Linked DNA regions of Homo sapiens. The protein of the gene in region 3 purifies or fractionates together with the protein of the main gene of each other region. This does not show direct contact. Each region holds a gene or a part of one and is shown on either strand. Other genes may lie near its edges.

Region 1 (7,819 bases), about 130 Mb from region 3:
AAGGACATCAAAACACGGGATTCTGCCCATCAGTGTGAGGAAATAAACCAGAAACTGAACAACGGCATCTGCAACACAAATAATGGGAAAAGGGTCAGCATCCAGGAGGTGAGGACCTTTCTGAATGAATAAGAAAACAATCCAAGAGAAAAGCAGGCCAAACGCTGAGCGGAAGGTCTCTCACAGCCAAGGTTCTACAGGCGGCCAATACGCTTCTGAAAGAAGGCCAGCCTTCAAGATCAGGGCACGGCCATCGCAGCTCCAGAGACACTTCCAGCCTGCTCGGGTGGCAAAGGCCCTCCCAACATCCAGGAACTCAGCTCCTGGGGACCAACAGGTCTGTAATCCCAGCACTTAGGGAGGCTGAGGCAGGTGGATCACGAGGTCAGGAGTTCGAGACCAGCCTGGCAAACATGGTGAAAGCCGTCTCTACTAAAATACGAAAAATTAGCCAGGCGTGGTAGTGCACGCCTGTAATCCCAGGTACTCAGGAGGCTGAGGCAGGAGAATTGCTTGAACCTGGGAGGCGGAGGTTGCAGTGGGCCGAGATCATGCCATTGCACTCCAGCCTGGGTGACAAGGCGAGACTCTGTCTCAAAAAAAAAAAAAAAAAAAAATCAGGAGTGGCACCACATGTAGACAACCCAACGAGCCCTGGGTTCCCAGTGCCTTCCATCAAGAAAATACTCCACAACCCCCACAAAGAACGCAGTCAGTCACAGAGGCCTGCTTAAAACATGATTCTACTTACACAAAGGCAGCAGCAAATGAGAGATTGTTTAAGGAGACACAAATACGGCAAAACTCTACCGGGAAGCAGAGAGGTAAGCCGCGGCCACGGCGACGGCCACACCGGAGGGAGGGATGAGGTGCATAGGGGAGGGGCACCCCAGGCCCAAAGCTGAATAGTAGATACATGGCTATTAGTTTTATTCTTCTTTAAAGTTACATCATCATATACACTTTTGTATGTACGTATCTCACAATAAAAATAAACCATTGCCATCGAAGACCCTGACGAGTAGTAAGAGCAAAAGCCCAAACCACACCTTGTCCTCCCGTGAGTTCCTAAGCTGCTGGCGCAGTCTCCACCCCGCTGGCCCTCGGAAAGCCACTGGCACTGGTTTTCTGAGGCCTATGTCAGGGTCATCGCGCAGGAGACAGTCACACCACGATCAGAACCTGACCTGCGGGCCCCACAGTGACGTAGCGGGACTACACCCGCAGGATGCCAACCTGCATGGCAGGACGTGCTGCCAGCGCACGGCGATCCTCAGCGCTGGATCCTCCGTATCGCCTCCGCAGCACCTATTTGTCCTGCAAGGGAACCAGCCAGCCTCCCCGACCCGAGACTTAGCATAAAGAAGGCGCACATACCTAGCAATGTTTTCGGGTTGGTCAGGCCCAGCTGCACCACCGGGTTATCCAGGATGGCCTGAAAGAGAGGACTGTCGGGGTCGATGCCCTTGTCCAGCTCCTCCGGAGAGGGCTTCCGGTCCCCCAGCAGCCACTCGCACTGCAAAGCCAAGAGCACCAATACCACTGTTAGCGCCTTCAGTGCCTCCGCAAGACGCCACCAGCAGCAGGCATGACAGCTCCTGCACCTTTCTGTGAGTTCCTGTTGAGCCCCCAGGGCTGATCTCCCTGGAAGGGACTCTACCGTGAAGACAAACGCAGTCTGGATTCACTGCCGTGCGTGTCAGACCAGGCCAGAGAAGGAAGAGCTAGTCCGCTTTTCTCTGCAGACCCTGGTGTCGCAGGGATCACTGACTGCTGCCGCTTCCCCACTTACCTGGGCCAGTGTGGCCCACCCAGGAGTGTTGGGAAGGTGATTAACAAATGTACCAAGTGCCCAGCTTGCCTGTGGTCCTGTTATGGGCAGTCAGCAGTGCTGGAGCCATGAGGACACAGGCTCCTCATCTCTGTCTTGGAGGTGTGAGCCACGAACTCCACTGGCACGGGGGATGGTGGGGGGGGGATGTGGGCCACCACAGGGACCTCCCCAGGCACAGCTCCATCAGCCCAGCTGGCACACGGGCACAGGACGGGAATCATTCTTGAGTCAGTTTAATCAGAAAAATGGGCTGGGAGTGGTGGCTCATGCATGTAATCCCAGCACTTTGGAAGCCAAAGCAGGAGGATCGATTGAAGCCAGGAGTTCAAGATCAGCCTGGGCAACAAAGGGAGATCTTGTCTCTAAAAAACTAATTAGCCGGGCATAGTGGTGCATGCCTGTGGTCCCAGCTACTCAGGAGGCTGAGGCAGGAGGATCGCTTGGGCCCAGGAGGTCGAGGCTGCAGTGAGTGTGATCACACCGCTGCACTCCAGCCTGGGGGACAGAGTGAGACCCTGACTCCAAAAAAATTAAAAAAAAAAAAAAATGAACAAATTACCCATCCATAAAATATGTACATATAAGGCACCCTTTTAAAAACCTAGAATTCCGTATTTTTAAATTTTTATACTGTTTGAGCCATCTATCCAATTGTCTCACTTTAAAAGCCACATAGCCGGCTGCATGTGAAAGTAGGCAAACACACGGCCTCCACCACGCCCGGGGCGCTCACGAGTGAGGCTCCCAGCACTCGCCCAGCCTGACACACTCACTCACCACAGCCCACACTCACAGCCCACACTCACTCACCACAGCCCACACTCACTCAGCCCACACTCACTCATCACAGCCCCCACTCACTCACCACAGCCCACACTCACCACAGCCCACACTCACTCACCACAGCCCACACTCACTCACCACAGCCCACACTTACCACAGCCCACACTCACTCACCACAGCCCACACTCACTCACCACAGCCCAACACTCACCGCGGCATTCTGCTGGTTGTTGTTCACTCTGAGGGCATCTATCACCTCTTTCTCGTCGAACCCCATCTCCATCAGGGAAATGACGGCCTAGAGGACAGCACAGCCGTTAGCTCGCTGGGGGCGGCAGGAGGCCGAGGAACCAGTGACCTGCGTGCAGAGGGGCCCGCTCCCCGCACCCTAGCGGAGGGTGCTCCCAACAGCACTGAGGACGCTGTCCGTCCACGTTCTTTCCTCACAGCTCTGCTAAAACAGATCTTGGTTTTCAGCATCCTAAAGCCGAGGAAGTGCAGGGATGACTGTAGTTAGCAGAGCCGGGGGGCAGTGCAGCTCCCAGGCTTGTCTTCAGGGAGCCACAGGTTGTGACAGGTAGAAACGCATCGCTTATGTGGACACGAGGCAGTCAGGCCAACTTCAGACCCTTTCAGGTTTGTCCCGATGACTGTGTGGATAAGACTGTCTCGGCAGCCACCGCAGGTTTACCCCAGAGGGCCTTGTTACCCAAAGAGAAGTGGCATTAGGGAAAGGCCACGTCAGTAAGTGCAATCTCAACGGAAACAAAAATGCCATTGTAACCTGTGAAAAAAGGTTTTATTCAGATTTTATCTTAGAAAAAAAAAAATCCTAGGGCCGGGCGCGGTGGCTCACACCTGTAATCCCAGCACTTTGGGAGGCCGAGGCAGGCGGATCACCAGGTCAGGAGATCAAGACCATCTTGGCTAACACGGTGAAACCCCGTCTCTACTAAAAATACAAAAAAATTAGCTGGGCGTGGTGGCAGGCGCCTGTAGTCCCAGCTACTCGGGAGGCTGAGGCAGGAGAATGGCATGAACCTGGAAGGCGGAGCTTGCAGTGAGCCAAGATCGCGCCACTGCACTGCAGCCTGGGCGACAGAGCGAGACTCCATCTCAAAAAAAAAAAAAAAAAATCCTAAAACTAATTTTTTAACTTTTAATATTGAACAAAACTTAAGCTACAACTGAACATATGCTAATTCGTTTTTGGGGAAGGACATACATTTTCTGGACACAATTCATGTAACAAGATAATACATCCTCTACTCTGGAGATTTATACCACAATGTTTAAAGGGGTCCATTTTGAAAAAATATAAATAAGTAAGATGAAGGCTTCATCAAAATTTCAAGGGCCTCTCCTAATCCCTGAAAGGTCAGATCCCACTCTCTTGAAGCCCCCAGAGTCCTCTCCATCTTTGGCAGTTTTCCGGCCACCATAAGGTGGTCTAGGGGTGCCAGCCCCACACAGCTCCCAGCACCACCCAGGCTGACTTCATGCAGCACTGCACCCCGCGGACGGTGCACGTCCACAGCCAGTCTGGACTGCACCATCAGATGCTTCCAAGAGAACCTGGCAGAAAAAGACTTCAGCTGGGGTGGAGCTCAGGAAGGATGCTGGCTAGAGCTAAACTGTGTGCATGATCAGGTCAAAAGTCCCAGCCGGGAGCAGTGGCTCACGCCTGTAATCCCAGCACTTTGGGAGGCCGGGGTGGGAGGATCACTTGAGGTCAGGAGTTTGAGACCAGCCTGGCCAACATGGGAAAACCCCATCTCTACTAAAAATACAAAAAGTAGCTGGGCGTGGTGGCGGGCACCTGTAATCCCAGCTACTCGGGAGCCTGAGGCAGGAGAATCGCTTGAACCTGGGAAGTGGAGGTTGCAGTGAGCCAAGATCGCACCACTGTACTCCAGCCTGGGCGACACAGTGAGACTCCATCTCAAAAAAGAAAAAACTCTGTATTTTCTATTTATGGTCCATCACAATTGCCTTCCTGAGCCACACCCTAATCCAGGAGCTCCAACAATGAACTCTGGAAGAACCCACCGCACAATATTTTGATATCAAAGTCATACAGAATAGCCTGGAATCTACTGAATTCAAGGACAGGATGCCCTCCTCACTAGCTTCAATAGGAAGTACTGTCGCTCATTTCTACCTCAGCCCAGGAAATGATGCCCCAGTACTCCCAAGGCAACACCTGGCAGTCCCTGCCCTCCCTCCCAGCCCATGGGGGCAAAGACTTGCTTGTGGGCAATGGGAGAGGGGCCTTGCGCTCACGGGCTGCAGGACGTCGGGCCCTGCCAGCTCTGCCCCCGGACAGCAGGCATCCTGTCTACCACTGGGAAGGGAGGGGCAGCAGGAAATCTGTTTTGGCCTCAAGTCAGAGCTCTCCAATCCTTTCTCAGTAACAAAGCTAGTATCTCGATCCCTACTGGACGACTGCCTGATCTCATGACTTGTACAGAAACCAAAGGCTAGGAGGACTGATGGGCTGGCCCCTCAAGCCTTGACCACCTTGTGATGATTTTCATCAAAGAAGACATTCTACGGAATGTTGTTCTGACACAGAGAGATGACGGGAGGGAATGGCAATGGGGAAGATCTTAGGAAAACGAGCACGTTAAGATTGTTAAGAATGAGCATCCATATTTAACAAAAAGGCTTAAGATGGCAAGAAAGTATATGACTAACAACCTCCAAGAGACCGTGCAGGACCACAACACACGAGAGTGCGAAGTCCAACCTCAGAGCACAAGGGACCCAGCTGGAGAGTGACTGCTCCACTTGGACAGGCTTCCAGGATCAGATGTAAACTTGGCTCCCTAGGAGACAAGCACAACGAGACAAACTTCCTGCTAAACCTAGAAATGCTAGATGAAAATAAAACAAAAATGCTTTTAGGTTAGGCACAATGGCTCATGCCTGTAATTCCAGCGCTTTGGGAGGCCAAGGCAGGAGGATCACTTGAGGCCAGGAGTTCAACACCAGCCTGGGCAACACAGGGAGATCCCTATCTGTACAAAATTTTAAAAAATAAAAAATTAGCCCTGTGTGGTGGTGCGTGCCTGTAAGAGCTACTCAGGAGGCTGAAGTAGCATCATTTGAGCCCAGGAGGTCAAGGCTGCAGTGAGCCATGATTGTGCCACCGCCACTCCAGCCTGGGTGACAGAGTGAAACTGTCTCAAAAAAAAAAAAAAAAAGAGAAACTTTTACATGCAGAGCTAACCTCACAAGAAAGGGATATCCACAAGTGAGAAACCCAAGAAGGAAGAGACAGAAAGCTAGCCCTGGGAGAGGGTGTGCGCAGGGGCTGCCCTGGGAGGGCGGGGTCTGATGTCTACACACAGACAGAACGTGCGCCTTGGGCCCATGGGAGGTAGGGAGTGGGAACTGAGACCCTTACTTAAAACAGGACCCTGAAAAGATGAGAAAATAGACTAGAAAAGCATTTGTCTCAATGGGATCTAACTAAAGAGCTTCTGCACAGCAAAAGAAACTACCCTCAGAGTGAACAGACAACCTACAGAAGGGAACGTTTTTGCAATCTATTCACCTGACAAAGGTCTAATATCCAGAATCTACATGGAATAAACAAATTTACAAGAAAAAAACAACCCCATTAAAAAGTGGGCAAAGGACATGATCAGACTCTTCTCAAAAGAAGACAGTTGGCCGGGCGCAGTGTCTCACACCTGTAATCCCAGCACTTTGGGAGGCCGAGGCGGGCAGATCGCTTGAGGTCAGGAGTTTGAGACGAGCCTGGCCAACATGGTGAAACCCTGTCTCCACTAAAAGTACAAAAATTAGCTGGGCGTGGTGGGTGTGTGCCTGTAGTCCCAGCTACTCAGGAGGCTGAGGCAGGAAGAATCCAGCCTGGGCGACAGAGCAAGGCTCAACATCACTGATCATTAGAGAAATGCAAATCAAAACCACAATGAGATACCATCTCATGCCAATCAGAATGATGATTATTAAAAAGTCAAGAAACAACAGCTGCTGGTGAGGCTGTGGAGAAATAGGAACGCTTTTACATTGCTGGTGGGAATGTAAATTAGTTCAACCACTGTGGAAGACATGTGGTGATTCCTCAAAGACCTAGAAACAGAAATACCATTTGTCCCTGCAATTCCATTACTGGGTATATACCCAAAGGAATAGAAATCATTCTGTTATAAAGATATGTGCACACGTATGTTCACTGCAGCACTACTCACAATAGCAAAGACATAGAATCAACTCAAATGCCCACGGATAAGAAAAGAAACCGGATAGACTGAATAAAGAAAATGTGGGATATATACACCATGGAATACTATGCAGCCATAAAAAGGAACGAGATCACGTCCTTTGCAGGGTCATGGATGAAGCTGGAAGCCACTGTCCTCAGCAAACTAACACAGGAACAAAAAACCAAGCCCCTCATGTTCTCACTTATAAGTGGGAGCTGAAAAATGAGAACACATGGACACAGTGAGGGGAACATCACACACCGGGGCCCATCAGGGGGTCTGGGGGAGGGAGAGCATCATGAAAAATAGCTAGTGCATGCTGGGCTTCATACCTAGGTGATGGGCTGACACGTGCAGCAAACCACCATGGCACATGTTTACCTATGTAACAAACCTGCACATCCTGCATATGTATCCCAGAACTTAACATTAAATTAAATTTTAAAAGAAACAAAGAAAAGCATTTGTCTCCACGGAACCCTGTGCAGGGAAGACCTGAGCTGCGAAGCCGGGGGTTACACTGCGGGACATGGTGGGGCAGGGGCCCCACTCATCACCAGCAGAAGCAAACTCAGAATCACCCCAGGTGGATGTCTACAGCCTGGCCACATGGAACTCCATGGAAAACACGAGCTCCGCAGGTGAGGCCACAGCACAATGTCACACACCCCAAGGAAACGATCAGTGCCACACGAGACGACAGCATGCAGATGGAGCAGATCTGCCATCTGAGCATGTCGGAGACAGACAGAAACCTCCAAGGAGGAAGTAAAACCCGAATCAAAGAACAGGAGAGAGAAGGAAGAATGGGGAGATGAGGCGCGGGCGAGGAAGGTCCACACACACAGGCGCAGGGACCCTTCAGCCCTGCAGACTGTGCCATGGAGGCGGCTGGCAGCCTGAGCGGCCCCTCGCTCATGGACACCCCCGACGGCAAATGACCCTCCCGGTCTCTGGGCAGGGCCCC
Region 2 (7,819 bases), on a different chromosome or scaffold from region 3:
CAGCCTGGTTGGTTGGGTGCCCTTGTCTCCACTGAACAGATGAGGAATGTGAAGCATCCTCCCTAGGGAGAATAAGTGGGCAAGTTGTGATGCAAACCAGCCCTGCCCTAGAGCCCAGGCCCCGGGGTGGGGGGTGGGCAGTGGAGAGGGAGTAGGCATGTCTGAGCCACAGATAAGGCGTTGCTGGCTTAACTCTGGCACCTACCCAGTGGCAGGCTACCGGCCCCTGCAGGACCCACCGAGTGCTGACCTGGTGCGGGCACAGAGGTTGCTGGGCTGCTTCCGGGCAGTGCTGAGTGTGGAGCTGGACCCTGTGGTGAGCTGGGGTCTGGGCCAGGCGGGGTGGGGGGCTTCCACAGCCTCCTGCCCCTCACACTTCTCCCTCCTCCCCCTCCACACAGGAGGGGCGGCTGTTGGACAAGGAGAGCTCCAAGTGGCGGTTGCGGGGCCAGCCCACCGTCCTCCTCACACTGGCCCACATCTTCCATCACTTTGCACCGCTTCTGGTGAGCGGCATTGGGAGGGGCATGGGAGGGGAGGAGACAGGCCATGCTAGACACGCCCGTGGTAGATGTGCCCTCACTGAGGGCTGCAGTGCTGAGGTCCCACAGCATCACCTGGCGAGGGCCCCATGTGACCAGGGCCCTCAGACCTCAGTCAGTCCCCTAGGGAAACAGGGACATTGCCAACCAAGGGCATCAGGGGATGTCCTGGAAAGAAGACTGAAGGATAATAACATCCCAGGCCAAGGAAACTGCGTGTGCCAAGCCTTAGAGGAGCCGTGGGGCAATGGCCTTCTTGTCCCTCAGTCAGACCCCGGAAGGGGTCATCTATGTTTGGTGTTGCTCGAGTGGCTCAAGGCTCTGTGCCTGAGGCTTGTGCCTTGGCCATGTGCCAGGGCAGGGGTGCCTTGACCAGAGTGGAAGGCCACCACCTCACCAGTGCCTGGCCTTGGTGCAGCGCAAGGTGTATCTGGTGGAGGCTGTGCTCATGAGCTTCTTGCTGGGCATCGTGGAGAAGGGCACACCCACACAGGCACAGTCCGTGGTGCACCAGGTCCTGGACCTCTTGTGGCTCTTCATGGAGGTGAGGCTCCTGACCTCAGGCCTCAGGCCTGGCTGTCAGTCTTCACTGGGGTCGGGAAGATACGGGGAGAATCTTGGAAAAGGCCCCAGTCATGGCTGCCTTGGCATCTCTTCCCCCAGGACTACGAGGTACAAGATTGCCTCAAGCAGTTGATGATGTCTCTGCTTCGGCTGTACCGATTCTCACCCATTGTCCCAGACCTGGGCCTACAGGTGGGAGCCCCTACCCCTGCCCTGAGCCCCCTGGGACTCGCCTGTCCACTCTGAACGCCCCCTCTCCACAGATCCATTACCTGCGGCTCACTATCGCCATCCTGAGGCATGAGAAGTCCCGCAAGTTTCTGCTTAGCAATGTCCTGTATCCTTTCCTTGCTGCCTGGCAGGCCAGACATGGGGTGCCCTCTGGACTCAGCAGAGGCCAGGAAGGGGAGTGTCATCAGGCCAGGGGTCCCCTGGGAGCATCAGGAGGACCAGAGCTGCCCAACGTGGCATTTTCTCTACAGAGCAAGGACGAGAGAGCAAAGGACTGAGCCTGGCCAGCCAGCCTAGCCAGGGGGTTCTGAATGACTGCAGACTCGGGCTACGCAGAGGTGTGGGAGGGGCCACAGGGCCTGCCCTCTTCGGCCACAGCCCAGCACTTTTGTTCATGTTCCACAGTGGGGATTCCTGCAAGATCTTTAAGGAGGCAGCTCTTCCTGCTTCCCAGAATTGTTGGGAACTGCATGAGTGAGTGAGAGCATAGCTTTGAGCCCCTGGCTGGGAAGCCTCAGCTTGTAGCCGTTTTCTTGGTCTGGGGTCTTCCAGCCTCCAGGAGGCAGACACAAAGCTGGGAGACACAGAGGTCAGAGTTGGGGCCTGAGAAAAGGCCACCAGTCCCTCTCTCCAGCTTGTCCCACAGTCATCTGTTCCTGTGACAAGCCCTTATCGTGCACCTGCTGGGTACTGGAGCTGGTGGGCTTAACCACCACAGCTTTTTGTCAGGGAGCATGCCCTGGGGGTCAGACACATAGCAGCAACATGCCCCTGTGGTGGTGGGAGAGCTGTGGTAGGCACATCCAGGGATGGGCTCCTGGGGAAGGACTCTTGAGGGTGTGCAGAGTGCCCTTTGGCAAGCAGAGCCCTGCCTTGACACCCGCCAGCTTCGACGTGCTCCGCTCCGTCGTCTTCTTTTACATCAAGAGCCCCCTGCGTGTGGAGGAGGCCGGCCTGCAGGAGCTCATTCCCACCACCTGGTGGCCCCACTGCTCCAGTAGGGAGGTGAGTGCACCCCAAGTGGGATGGGCAGAGGTCATGGCAAGGCCCCTGGCCTGGGCATCTGGCCACTGGGCATCTAGCATGAGGCCTTTTCACTGGCCCTGGTCCCTGAAGCCCTGGAGATGGAGTGTGGGTGTTCTGAGTGAAGGAGGCCTGGCTAGGTCCCAGGTGACCCTGCTGTATTCCACCTGCTACCCCTGCCTAGGGCAAAGAGAGCACGGAGATGAAGGAGGAGACCGCAGAGGAGCGGCTGCGGCGGCGAGCCTACGAACGGGGCTGTCAGCGGCTCAGGAAGCGCATCGAAGGTCAGCCCGCCTTGGGCACGGGGTAGGGTGGGAGGTGTGTGTGTGCACATGAGGGTGCTTGGAGGTGCCCATGTCTAGGTGGGACTTGGGGAACCCTGGTGGTGGAGCCCTGGCCCAAACCTGCCCCCCATCTCCTGGAGCCTGAGGGCCATGTTCCTCACCTGACCTCCAGTGGTGGAAGAACTACAGGTCCAGATCCTGAAGCTGCTGCTGGACAATAAAGATGACAATGGGGTGAGTGACTCCCAGGAGCCCTGGGTGGGGCCCTGTGGGGAGGGATGCTGCACTGGGCCTTAAGACCCAGAGGGTGGGAACTGGGTTTGGTTCCCATGGCAGGGGCTGGGGGAAGGTGCAGCACTGAGCCAGCCCAGTCTGGGCCTGCATTCTCAGCTCAGCACAGCCTCACTTTTCCCTCTCTCAAAGGGTGAAGCTTCTAGGTATATCTTCCTGACCAAGTTTCGCAAGTTTCTGCAGGAGAACGCCAGTGGCCGGGGGGTAGGTGTCCTCCAGGCCAGCCCACTGTGGATCCCCGGCTGCACTACACATGCCATGCCCTCAGCACCTGGCACTTCTCGGACTGCCTCATCCCTGCCTAGCCCCAAGCTTTTCTCTGCTGCTTTTCCCTCCCTGCTTAACCCTCGACCCTCAGGCAGGGCCTTGGATGAGGAATGGGCAAGGCACTGGACTGGCACCAATGCATGTTTCATGCCTGGTGTCCACAGAACATGCCCATGCTCTGCCCCCCTGAGTACATGGTCTGCTTCTTACACCGGCTGATCTCTGCCCTGCGCTACTATTGGGATGAATACAAGGCTTCCAATCCTCATGCTTCCTTCAGTGAGGGTGAGTGGCACCGGGGTCCCAGGTCAGTGAGGCTGGACAGAGCCAGGCGTAGGGCAGCCCCTAATGTTAGTGCAGAGTGCTGAGCTGAGGCTGTGGGCTGTGGGGAGTTGTCCCCGGCATCCTGCCTGGTTGAGTCCTACCCAGCCACAGGCGGCTTCTCCACTGGGGCAGCAGGAGCCCTGCACCGCAGGCCTGCCGATCCTGTGTTTGCTCTGATTGTCCCACGGGCTCCTACCATTGTGGGCTCTTTTCTTCCGTCCTTGCCCCCCCATTTCTCTGTGCGTCCTTTATAGGGCTGCCTTGGGTGGGTGCTGGGGGGCCCTGTGTTTGAGTCCCCAAGGGTCAGTGGGAGCCTTACCTGCCCTGGATTGGGGGATATCCCACAGGACTGGGGCTGGGCCTCTCTGCTTCTCCTGAGTGAACGGCTGCCATGAGTACCCCCATCACCCCAAGTTATGCAGCTGCTGGCTCTGACCTGAAATGGCAGGGGTGGAGAAGAGGTAGGGGAGGTCTGTTTCTTGGTCCAGGAGACAGTTTCTCTGTCTGCCTGGATGGGTGAGTGGCCAAAGCCAGAATTCCCAGGCTGTGCTAGGCCAGATTGGAGGGGAGGGCTGTGGGGAGGGTCTTCCTACTGGGCCGTGACCACTGGCCTAGCCTCCTCAATTCCTCGCAGAGGCCTACATCCCGCCCCAGGTCTTCTATAATGGCAAGGTGGACTACTTTGACCTGCAGCGCCTGGGGGGCCTCCTCTCGCACCTGCGGAAGACCCTCAAAGGTGTGTACAGGCCTGTGGGCCGGGAGCAGTTCTGGGGCCAGGTGGGGGACTGTCCCTGAGCCTGCTCTGCTGTGGATGCTGAGCCATCCTATGGCCACCAGAGGGTGCCCAAGTCTTTCCACCCACTCAGGCAGGGAGACACTGATCTGCCTGCCCTACATCTGGGCAGCTTCTCTTTCCCGCCAGCACCCACGCCATAGGGGTCGGGCGTGCCTGGCAGGGGACCAGGGATCTTGGTGAGGTGTGGATGGGGCGTGCAGGTGCTGCCGGAGCTGCCTTCAGGGATGAGCACAAGCTGCCCCGGTGCAGGGCTGAGGGCACAGCGAGAGCAAGGCCCTGAGCCGGGCACAAGGGTGGGTCTGTGCTGTCAGAACCTCTCTCTGGCTGCCGCAGTGTATACGCCGGAGTGCAGGGGCTGAGAGACAGGGAGCCCAGGTGTCCCCACACAGGAGATAAGGGCCTGCCCAGGTAGGTAGGGGAGGGCACAGGTGGAGGAGAGGAGTCAGGATGACCCCAGGCTTCCTGCCAGAGGTTGTGTGGATGGGGTGCCATCAGGGAGAGGGGCTGCAGGAGGTGGTGGAGATGAGAAATTCTGTTTGGACACAGCGCGTTTAGCGGGGAGCAAGGCCTGGGCGGGGGGCAGCGAAGGCGGGGTCAGTTGTCAGCACGGTGGTGGGGATGAGCCTGGGATGAGGCTTGGCTCCCACTGGGAGTGCCCAGAATGAAGCAGCCCTGGCATCTCCTTTTGTTTATGGAGTAGTCAGAGAGTGGGGGAGGCCCTGGAGAGCAGGAAGTCCTGGGAAACAAAGCCAGGGACCAGCAGGAAGGGCATGATGGGCTTACATCTATGTAGAATAAAGAAAGTCAATTTGAAAATAAATGAAAAAGAAGGGTGTGATGGGGAAGGCCTCCTGTTACTGAGTGGCAGCTAGACGGGGCCCTTGAGATGCAGAGTGAAGGCTGGGTGGAGGAGGCGGAGGGGCGAGGGGCAGATACGGTGCTAAACCGGGCTCTGCAAGGCCTCCTGCCCAGTGTGCTGGGCTCTCTCACCGTCCTGGGCACTTCCACTGTGGCCCCTTGCGCCACCACTGGCCTGAGAACCCTCCTGCTCTTCCTCCCAGATGACCTTGCTTCCAAAGCCAACATTGTGATCGACCCACTGGAGCTCCAGTCAACCGCCATGGATGACCTAGATGAGGATGAGGAGCCAGCCCCAGCTATGGCCCAGGTGCCGCAGTGGGGGCAGGCGGTGGGATTTGTGTTGGGCTTATCCTGTATCTTATGGGCAGGGGTCTCATCCAGGGCCACTTCCCGCTCCATGCAGGCAAAGGGTTTCTCACTGGGCTGGTGCCTTGCTGTGGGTGGAGGCATGGACCCTCCCTCACAATTCTGCAGCCCCGTGGGCCAAGGGAACCCTGAGCCAGCCCTGGTCCTGGCCGCCTTTCTTCACTGCAGCGCCCCATGCAGGCCCTGGCTGTTGGGGGGCCACTGCCCCTGCCCCGGCCCGGCTGGCTCAGTTCTCCAACTTTGGGCCGAGCCAACCGCTTCCTCAGCACAGCGGCTGTGAGCCTCATGACCCCACGGCGGCCTCTGAGCACCTCGGAGAAAGTGAAGGTCCGCACGCTGAGCGTGGAGCAGAGGACCCGTGAGGACAGTAGGTGCTTGGTGGGGTCAGGCAGGTCCCCGAAGGACCCTTCCACAGTGTACAGTCCCCGATCCGGGCAAAGCCAAAATACACCCCATGCCCTCCCAGCCCTGTGGCCTGGCAGCATCCCAGGAGTGCAGGAAGCACACTCCGAGGGCAGGAGATCAATGCCGCAGAAATAGGTCCTGGCACCGCAGGCCTTGCCCTGCACTCCACCCCTACCCCCATGCCCCCATGGGCTCCCCGCGGGTCCCTCCTTGGGCACAGGAATGGGAGAGATGATTTCCTCTCCTGCTGTGAGGCAGGCTCAGGAGAGCCGGGATGGCCCTACCCTTGACCCTTCCCTCCCCAACTCCCCAGTTGAAGGCAGCCACTGGAATGAGGGCTTGCTGCTGGGGCGGCCCCCCGAGGAGCCTGAGCAGCCCCTCACCGAGAACTCGCTGCTGGAAGTCCTGGATGGGGCGGTCATGATGTACAACCTCAGCGTACACCAGCAGCTGGGCAAGGTCGTGCACTCTTGGACCCCGCATTGGGTGGCGGGTGTTGTGCGTGTTTGGTTGTGTGTGTATTCCTGTGTGCACATGGGCCCGCAGGGCTGCCTGTTCAAGACCGTGCATGGGAGCACATGCCTCAGCGAGGCTGGTTTCTGCTCCTGCTGCCTCAGTCTGACCTGCTGACTGTTGTGGGAATGGGACCGCCCTGGGCCTAAGGTTGGGACCTTGGCAGGGCTGGGGTCCAGACTGGGTCTGAAGAAGCCTGGATGAAGTGCCCAAGGGGCACTCTGGACATGTGGTCCCATGCTGTGTAGATGGTGGGTGTCTCCGATGATGTCAATGAATACGCTATGGCTCTGAGGGACACAGAGGACAAGCTCCGCCGGTGCCCCAAGAGGGTAAGGCCCACATAGTCTTGGTGAGGGGCAGCTTGCTTACTCGTACAGGTAACCACAGATGAAGTCTGGTTCTGGGGGCTGCCCTGGCAGTTCTCATCCCCACTCTAGCCCTGGCCATAGCACGCCAGTGAGAGTGGGGCTGGCAGCAAGGCCTGGCACCCATCACCAGTGTGGCCTGTGCCTAGGTGCCCCCCACCCCCTGGGCCCAATAAGTGCTGAAGCACACCCACTCTCCTCATCAATTATTCATTGACCCTGAGTGCTTCCTCGGCCACTTGCAGAGTCAGCAGGAAGCAGGGCCTGGCTCCACTGCACCCTCCGGAGCCCTCTGCTGTAGCTGCCCTAGCCCAGGAAGGTGGGGCCCAGTGTGTCCAGGCTGAGCTTCCCTGACAGCCCCCACCCACCCCGACCTGTCAGCAGATCCCTGGGTCTGGCAGCTGGGGGAGCAGCGGTTCTGGCATCAGGTCCCTGGGTGCTCTGGCCAGCGGCTCACAGACCCCCAGCTGGGCCTCACTTCCATGTCATGAGGGGACCACCATGGCCTTGTTCTGAGGCTGGCTCAGGGTCACCAGAGGGTCAGTGGCAGAAGAAGGTTTTGAAAAATGGAGCCCAATCCCTTGCCTGCTCCAGGCACTAGAGGGCCCTTCCTAGGCTGCCTGCAGGATCAGGGTGGACCTGGGTATGGGGCCATGTCTTGATTGTCCTCCTTTCCCCTTGGGTGGCAGAGGAAGGACATCCTTGCAGAGTTGACCAAGAGCCAGAAGGTTTTCTCAGAAAAGCTGGACCACCTGAGCCGCCGTCTTGCCTGGGTCCATGCCACTGTCTACTCCCAGGTGTGCTGGTATTGCAGCTGCCCCTTCCCGACCTCACTGTCTGGCCACGGGTCTAGCAAGATTGTGCCAGGGCCCTTGATGCCCCCACCCTCTCAGGCCTCTGGCACACACATGTCCCTTCCCACACTTCAGACTCCATCACCCCATGCCATGTCCCCTGTACCCCTCATGCTCTGTGGACTGAGGA
Region 3 (7,819 bases):
AGACCCTCCCTAACAGGTCTCTCTGTTTCTACTCTTGCCTTTCTACAGTCTATTCTCAACACAGTAGCCAGAGTGATCCATTTAAAATGTCAATTATGTCACTTCTCTGCTCAAAAATCTTAATGACTCCTTGCATCACCCCAAAACAAAGTCTTTAAAATGATCTAAAACAGGGGGTCCCCAACCACTGGGGACTTAACTGGTCTATGGCCTGTTAGGAACCAGGCCACATGGCAGGAGGTAAGCAGTGGGCAGGCGAGCGAGCAAAGCTTCATCTATATTTACAGCTGCTCCCCATTGCTCGCATTATCACCTGAGCTCTACCTCCTGTCAGATCAGGGACAGCATTAGATTCTTATAGGAGTGTGAACCCTATTGTGAACTGCGCATGCCAGGGATCTAGGTTGCACGCTCCTTATGAGAATCTAATGCCTGATTATCTATCACTGTCTCCCATCACCCCCAGATGGGACCATCTGGTTTCAGGAAAACAAGCTCAGGGCTCCCACTGATTCTACATTATGGTAAATTGTATAATTATTTCATTAAACATTACCATGTAATAGTAATAGAAATAAAGTTCACAATAAACGTAATGCGCTTGGATCATCTGAAAATCATTCCCCTCCCTGGTCCAAGGAAAAATTGTCTTCCATGAAACTGGTCCCTGGTACCAAAAAGGTTGGGGATTACTGGCCTAAAATACCCTATTTTATCATGTCTGCCTATTACCTCTCCTACCTTATCTTCTACTACTTTCCTCATTTTCTCTGCTCCAACCACATTTGGACTCTTTGCTACTCCCTGTATACATCAGGCAGAAGGGCCTCTGCTCCACTATTTCCTCTGCATAAATGCCCTTTCTCCACATATCCACTTGGATAATTCCCTTACCACTTCTTTTTAAATCTCACCTTTTCAATAATTGGTCTACCCTTACCACACTGTTTAATACTATACCCCACCTTTCAACTCCTTGCTCTGTTTATCTCCCTTATCCTGTTTCATTTTTCATTTTTCTGTAGCTCTTACTACTTTCAAATATTTACTTAATAAAGCTCCATAAAGCCTTTGATCTTTGTCTGTTTTGTCCACTGACATATTCCCAAGATTCTAAAATTGTGCCTGGATGCTTAGTAGGTACCCAATGAGTATTTGCTTAATAAAAGAAAAAATCATAAGACTAAGCAAAAGTATGCGAAAAGAAGACCTTAATAAAGTTCAGCCCTATTTACGATGATTAAAAAAAAATCTCTTAGCAAGCTTCCTTACCTTAATGAAGATTATATAGCATAAACCTACAAACATCATACCTAATGGAGATATTTAAATGCGTGCCCTTTAAGCCTGGGAACAAAACAAGAAATCAAAGCAAAAAAAAAAAAAATGGTATAAGTTTAGCAAGAAAGTGATATAACTATCATTTTCAAGTGATAAAAAACCTATAGAATCAACAAACTATTAGAACTATGAAGATAGTTCAGCATGGTTGCTGGATAAAGATCAACCTATAAAAATAAGTTGCATTTCTCTAGCCAAGTCACTAACTAGTAAATATAATTCACAGGTATTTACAATAGCTAAAGAAAAAAAAGTATTAAGCATGAAATTAACCAATGATACTGTAAAAGTTTCCATAAAGAAAACTTTAAAATCATAAGAATAGAATATAAGTAATTTCATGACTTTGATTAGGATGACTTTATGTAATAAAGAGGTCAATGGGGTCGGGGGGAGTTGGGTGCACAAGATGGCCAATTAGATGCAGCTGTGATCCATGGCGCTCAGGGAGAGGAATAAAAGAGTGAATTCAGCACCTTCAACTGAAATATCCAGGTTCTCACATTGGGACTGACTAGGCAAACAACTTGATCCAGAGAGAAAGAAGAAATGCAGGGTGGAGCAATGAATGGCCTACCAAGGAACAGCAGGGAGCCAAAGGAAACTCACCCTCAGCCAAGGAAAGTGGTGAGTGATTGTGCCACCCCGCCCGGGAAATCACATTTCTCCCAGAGATCTCTGAAACCCAGATCAGGAAATCCCATCTTTGATCCCAGATCTTTGCAGATCAGGAGATCCCATTGTGAGCCCATGCCACTAGGGCCTTGGGTTCGACACACAGAGCTGTGTGGAGTCTCAGCAGAGCAAACGCTCAGGCACACAATGAGGCCCAGGAGTTTTACAGATTCTGGCCCTGGGATCCTGGCAAGGCAGAAGATATGACAGTGCATATCCCAAGGAAGGGGGCTGAATCCAGGGAGCCAAGCAGTTGTTCTGCACGTCCCACTTCCACAGCACCTCACAAATTAAGACCTGATTTGGAATTCCAGCCACCCAAAGCAAAAGCTGGAGTCCACCTGAAACGGGACAGAGTTCCTGGGAGGAGGGGCAGCCGCCATCTCTGGGAAAGGTCAACTCAGCTGTTCCAGCCTCCCAGCTTTGGAGAATCCAAACAGTCCAGAGGAGGAAGGTACCCCACAACACAGCACAGCTGCTGTGCCAGACTGTGGCCAGACTGCTTCTTTCTTTTTCTTCTTTTTCTTTTTTGAGTTGGAGTCTCGCTCTGTCACCCAGGCTGGAGTACAGTGGCGTGATCTTGGCTCACTGTAACCTCCACCTCCCAGGTTCAAGCGATTCTCCCGCCTCAGCCTCCCAAGTAGCTGGGATTACAGGCACATGCCACCATGCCTAGCTAATTTTTGTATTTTTAGTAGAGACAGGGTTTGCCATGTTGCCCAAGCTGGTCTTGAACTCCTGATGTCAAGTGATCCACCCGCCTTGGCCTCCCAAAGTGCCAGGATTCCAGGCATGAGCCACCACGCTCAGACTGCTGCTTTAAGTGGGACCCCAATCCATTCCTCCTCCCTGGGTGAGACCTCCTTGTAGGGGCTTCAGCCACTCCAGCCAGGGTTACAGGGACAGAGCTGTGATCTCTCCCTAGGACTGAGCTCCTAGGGAGGAGGGGCTGCCGCCATCTCCACGGTTCCCTTTACTCAGCTGTTCCAGCTTGCTGGTTGGCATGAGAAAGGGTTCCCCAGAAGGCAGTACAGCTGCTTTGGCAGATTGTGGCCAGACTGCTTCTTTAAGCAGGACACTGATCCATTACTCTTCACTGGGCAGGACCTCCATGTGGAGGCTTCAGCCACTCCAGCCAGAGTTATACAGACAGAGCTCTGATCTCACTCTGGAACAAAGTTCCTGTGGGGAGGGGCAGCCACCATCTCTGTGGTTTCCTACATCACACTACCCAACTTCAAACTATACTACAAGGCTACAGTAACCACAACAGCTTGGTACTGGTACAAGAACAGATACATAGACCAATGGAACAGAATAGAGAACTCAAATAAAACCACACACCACACACCTACAACCATACGATCTTGGACAAACCTGACAAAAACAAGCAATGAGGGAAGAATTCTCTATTTATTAAATGGTGCTGGAAGAATTGGCTAGCTGTAGGCTCAAAATTGAAACTGGACCCCTTCCTTACACTCTACACAAAAATTAACTCAAGATGGATTAAAGACTTATGTAAAACCCAAAACCATAAAAACCTTAGAAGAAAATCTAGGCAATAGCATTCAAGACACAGGCACAGGCAAATATTTCAAAACAAAAACACCAAAAGCAATTGCAACAAAATCAAAAACTGACAAACGGGATTTAATTAAACTAAAGGGCTTCTGCACAGCAAAAAAAAAAAAAAATCATGAGAGTGAACAGACAACCTACAGAATGGGAGAAAATTTCTGCAATCTATCCATCTGACAAAGCTCTAATATCCAGCATCTATAAGTAACTTAAACAAATTTACAAGAAAAAAACAACCCCATTAAAAAGTGGGCAAAAGACATGAACAGAGAGTTCTCAAAAGAAGACATATATGTGGCCAACAAACAAAAAATAGCTCAACATCACTGATCATTAGAGAAATGCAAATCAAGATTACAATGAGATACCATCTCATGCCAGTCAGAATGGCTATTATTAAAGCTAAAAAACAACAGATGCTGGCAAGGTTGTGGAGAAAAAGGAACACTTTTACACTGTTGGTAGGGTTCAACCATTGTGGAAGACAGTGTGGTGATTTCTCAAAGACCTAGAGGCAGAAATACCATTTGACCCAGCAATCCATTACTGGGTGTATACCCAAAGGAATGTAAATCATTCTGTTATAAAGATACATGCAAGCATATGTTCATTGCAGCACTATTCACAATAGCAAAGACATGGAATCAACCTAAATGCCCACCAATGATAAACTGGATATAGAAAACTTGCTACACATACACCATGGAATACTATGCAGCTATAAAAAAGAATGAGATCATGTCCTTTGCAGGGACATGGATGGAGTTGGAAACCATCATTCTCAGCAAACTAATGCAGGAACAGAAACCAAACACCACATGTTCTCACTTGTAAGTGTGAACTGAACGATGAGAACACATGGACACATGCAGGGGAAAACACACACTGGGGCCTGCCTGACAGGGGCCCTGGGGGAAGGGAAAGTATCAGGAGGAATAGCTAATGGATGCTGGGATTAATACATAGGTGATAGGATGATCTGTGCAGCAAACCACCATGACACACATTTATCTATGTAACAAACCTGCACATCCTGCACATGTACTCCTGAACTTAGAAGGTGAAGCAAAAAAAAGAAGTCAATCCTCTTCAAATTAGTGTATATATTCTGTTGTGGGAAGTCAGGGACCCTGAACGGAGGGACCGGCTGGAGCCATGGCAGAGGAACATAAATTGTGAAGATTTCATTTTAATATGGACATTTATCAGTTCCCAAATAATACTTTTATAATTTCTTATGCCTGTCTTTACTCTCTTAATCCTGTTATCTTCGTAAGCTGAGGATGTATGTCACCTCAGGACCACTGTGATAATTGTGTTAACTGTACAAATTGATTGTAAAACGTGTGTTTGAACAATATGAAATCAGTGCACCTTGAAAAAGAACAGAATAACAGCAATTTTTAGGGAACAAGGGAAGACAACTGTAAGGTCTGACTGCCTGCGGGGTTGGGCAAAAAGAGCCATATTTTTCTTCTTGCAGAGAGGCTATAAACGGATGTGCAAGTAGGGAAGATATCACTAAATTCTTTTTCCTAGCAAGGAATATTAGTATTAATACCCTGGGAAAGGAATGTACTACTGGAGGGAGGTCTATAAACAGCCGCTTCGGGAATGTCTGTCTTATGTCGTTGACATAAGGACTGATATACGCCCTGGTCTCCTGCAGTACCCTCAGGCTTACTAGGGTGGGGAAAAACTCCACCCTGGTAAATTTGTGGTCAGACTGGTTCTCTGCTCTCAAACCCTGTTTTCTGTTATTTAAGATGTTTATCAAGACAATACATGCACCACTGAACATAAACCTTTATCAGTAGTTCTGCTTTTGCCCTTTCCCTTGTGATCTTTATTGGACCCTTATCAGTAGTTCTGCTTTTGCCATTTGTCCTGTTCCCTCAGAAGCATGTCATCTTTGTTAGACCCTTATTAGTAGTTCTGCTCTTTGCACTTTGAAGCATGTGATCTACTCCCTGTTCTTACACCCCCTCCCCTTTTGAAACTCTTAACAAAAAACTTGATGGTTTGAGGCTCAGGCCAGCATTAGAGTCCTACTGATATGTGCTGTCACCCCCGGCGGCCCAGCTGTAAAATTCCTTTCTTTGTACTCTTTATTTCTCAGCCAGCGGACACTTATGGAAAATAGAACCTACATTGAAATATTGGGGGCGGGTTCCCCTGATAATATTCCACGCATCCCAAATAAAATTCCATGTGGACTTTTAAAAAAGAAATTCAATAAGCATACTTTTAAATATATATGAAAGAATAAAGGTTGAAGATTTAGGTTAGTCAATCCTAAGGGAAAAAATAAACATTGAAGACTTGTCCTGCCAGATAAATGACATCCTATAGAGTCACAGTATCAAAAATAGTAACGATAAAAGGCCAAATAAATGACCAATTAAATAAAATAGAAAGCTCAAACTTATCAGTAATGGTTATCCCACAAATTAGTGAGAAAAATAATTGATTAGTAGAAAGTGTTCAGAAAACTAGCTCCCTATGTAGAGAAAAAAAGACTTACTGAGAAAGTGAGGTAATATTCCTACCGAGACCAGAACTAAAAATTAGCCTAATAATTAAGGACTTAATGTGAAAAGTAAAACTGAAAAGTTAACAGAAGGACAGAAAAGGACCTCTAATACATAAGGCAAAACACTTACTGCTTAATTATATAAAAGTTAAGGCTTTCTGTCAAGCAACAGCAATAGACAGATGTCAAAATGGGAGAACATATTTGTGACATCTAAAACCAACAACTAGTTGTTACTGTATCTAGATTTGATTAACTCCTATAAACCAACTGGAAAATGATAACAATTCCAACAAGAATTGGGCAAAATATATAAACAGGAAATTTTAAGAGAAAATCCAAAAGGTTAACATGTATATGAAAAGATGTTCAGACCCAGAGCAAGTTAAAATAGAAATATAGTGTCATTTTACATCTATTACACTGGTAAAAGTTAATAACTGTATAATGCTAATTGTTGACATAGATATGAGGACACAGGATTGGTGGTGCAACTATACATTGGTGTAGTCACTCTGAAGAGCAATCTGATACTCCTCAGGCAAATTAAACATACACATACTTCATGACACAGCAATTCCACTCTAGATGTGTATCCCAGAAACACTTCTAGGTTCATAAGGGGACACATACAATGATGTTCATGGCAGTGTTATCTGTAGTGGTAGGGAGTTCAAGGCTACATAGGTTAGGTGTTCAAAACTGAATAAATCAGTAAAATGTGAGGAATGCACATGAGTATTATGCAGTAGTTAGAAGCAATGGACTAAATGTTCACATAGCAACAATAAGATATAGATCTTAAATGCCTTTTAGATATATCTTAAAACATATGAACAGGAAAGAATGCATAATTTGCAAAAACTTATAAAAACAAAAAATATATAATAAACACATTACAACAATTGCCAAGGAGAGGAGGAGAATGGGAGTGGAGAAAGGGGCTAAGTGAGGATAATCACCTTCTGTAAATTATAATTTACTTATGTTAATTGTCTATCTTTACTATTCTGTAGGCTTCATGAGGGTAGGAGCCTTCACCGTTTACTCTAACATCCCAATCACCAAGAAGAGTGCCTAACACATGATAGGTACTCAAATTTTGTTGAACTAATATATAAAGAGAAGGGCCCTTTACAGACTAGTTGTGATGATATCTGAAACATAAAGAAACAAAAAAAACAAGAATATGTGACATGAAGACTAAGAATATGGGAATATGATTAATCTAACTGGAATAGGGGTTACAGATTATGAAAAGCTGATTTTGAAACATTAATGATTTCACCTGGCACTAATATCTCGGAAGCACAATACTCAGTCGTAATTTAGAAATATGATGTCAACTTCATGGTGCCACATTACGGGGTAGGTCTTGGAGATACTGCCTCCACCTTCAGGGTCCATTAACAAGAAGCACACAATTACAGATTCAAGATATGTATAAGTAGCTTTGAAAAAAAGCATTTTTTAATAGCAGCGTAGCAAATTATATTTTTCTGTGTCAGACTCAAGTAGATCATCAGGATATTAAAATTTCAGACAACTGACTTGATCTAACACAACAACTTGTCCTGCTGGTAAAAGTGAAATAAAAAGTAATCAACTTTCCAGCCATATTCATATATAAAAATGATGTCATAATTATGTATTCTATATTAGAAACATATACATCTCTGCAACTTCTAA

The links.
Region 1: the proteins of INSL6 (region 3) and UBAC1 purify together in Homo sapiens (co-immunoprecipitation; 3 studies listed by BioGRID and IntAct, with this or other methods). This does not show direct contact.
Region 2: the proteins of INSL6 (region 3) and RNF123 purify together in Homo sapiens (co-immunoprecipitation; 3 studies listed by BioGRID and IntAct, with this or other methods). This does not show direct contact.

The regions. Positions count from the first base shown.
Region 1 is NC_000009.12:135,936,845-135,944,663, forward strand, and holds part of UBAC1 (ubiquitin-associated domain-containing protein 1), read right to left. Parts: intron 2,916-7,819; coding exon 2,829-2,915; intron 1,517-2,828; coding exon 1,378-1,516; intron 1-1,377.
Region 2 is NC_000003.12:49,699,267-49,707,085, forward strand, and holds part of RNF123 (E3 ubiquitin-protein ligase RNF123), read left to right. Parts: intron 1-201; coding exon 202-316; intron 317-401; coding exon 402-506; intron 507-960; coding exon 961-1,086; intron 1,087-1,205; coding exon 1,206-1,298; intron 1,299-1,369; coding exon 1,370-1,443; intron 1,444-2,224; coding exon 2,225-2,342; intron 2,343-2,544; coding exon 2,545-2,644; intron 2,645-2,816; coding exon 2,817-2,878; intron 2,879-3,067; coding exon 3,068-3,139; intron 3,140-3,366; coding exon 3,367-3,487; intron 3,488-4,160; coding exon 4,161-4,262; intron 4,263-5,383; coding exon 5,384-5,490; intron 5,491-5,717; coding exon 5,718-5,916; exon of another isoform or gene 5,917-5,920; intron 5,921-6,267; coding exon 6,268-6,413; intron 6,414-6,715; coding exon 6,716-6,799; intron 6,800-7,524; coding exon 7,525-7,632; intron 7,633-7,819. UniProt on the Homo sapiens protein: Catalytic subunit of the KPC complex that acts as E3 ubiquitin-protein ligase. Promotes the ubiquitination and proteasome-mediated degradation of CDKN1B which is the cyclin-dependent kinase inhibitor at the G0-G1 transition of the cell cycle.
Region 3 is NC_000009.12:5,175,347-5,183,165, forward strand, and holds part of INSL6 (insulin-like peptide INSL6 precursor), read right to left. Parts: intron 1-7,819. UniProt on the Homo sapiens protein: May have a role in sperm development and fertilization.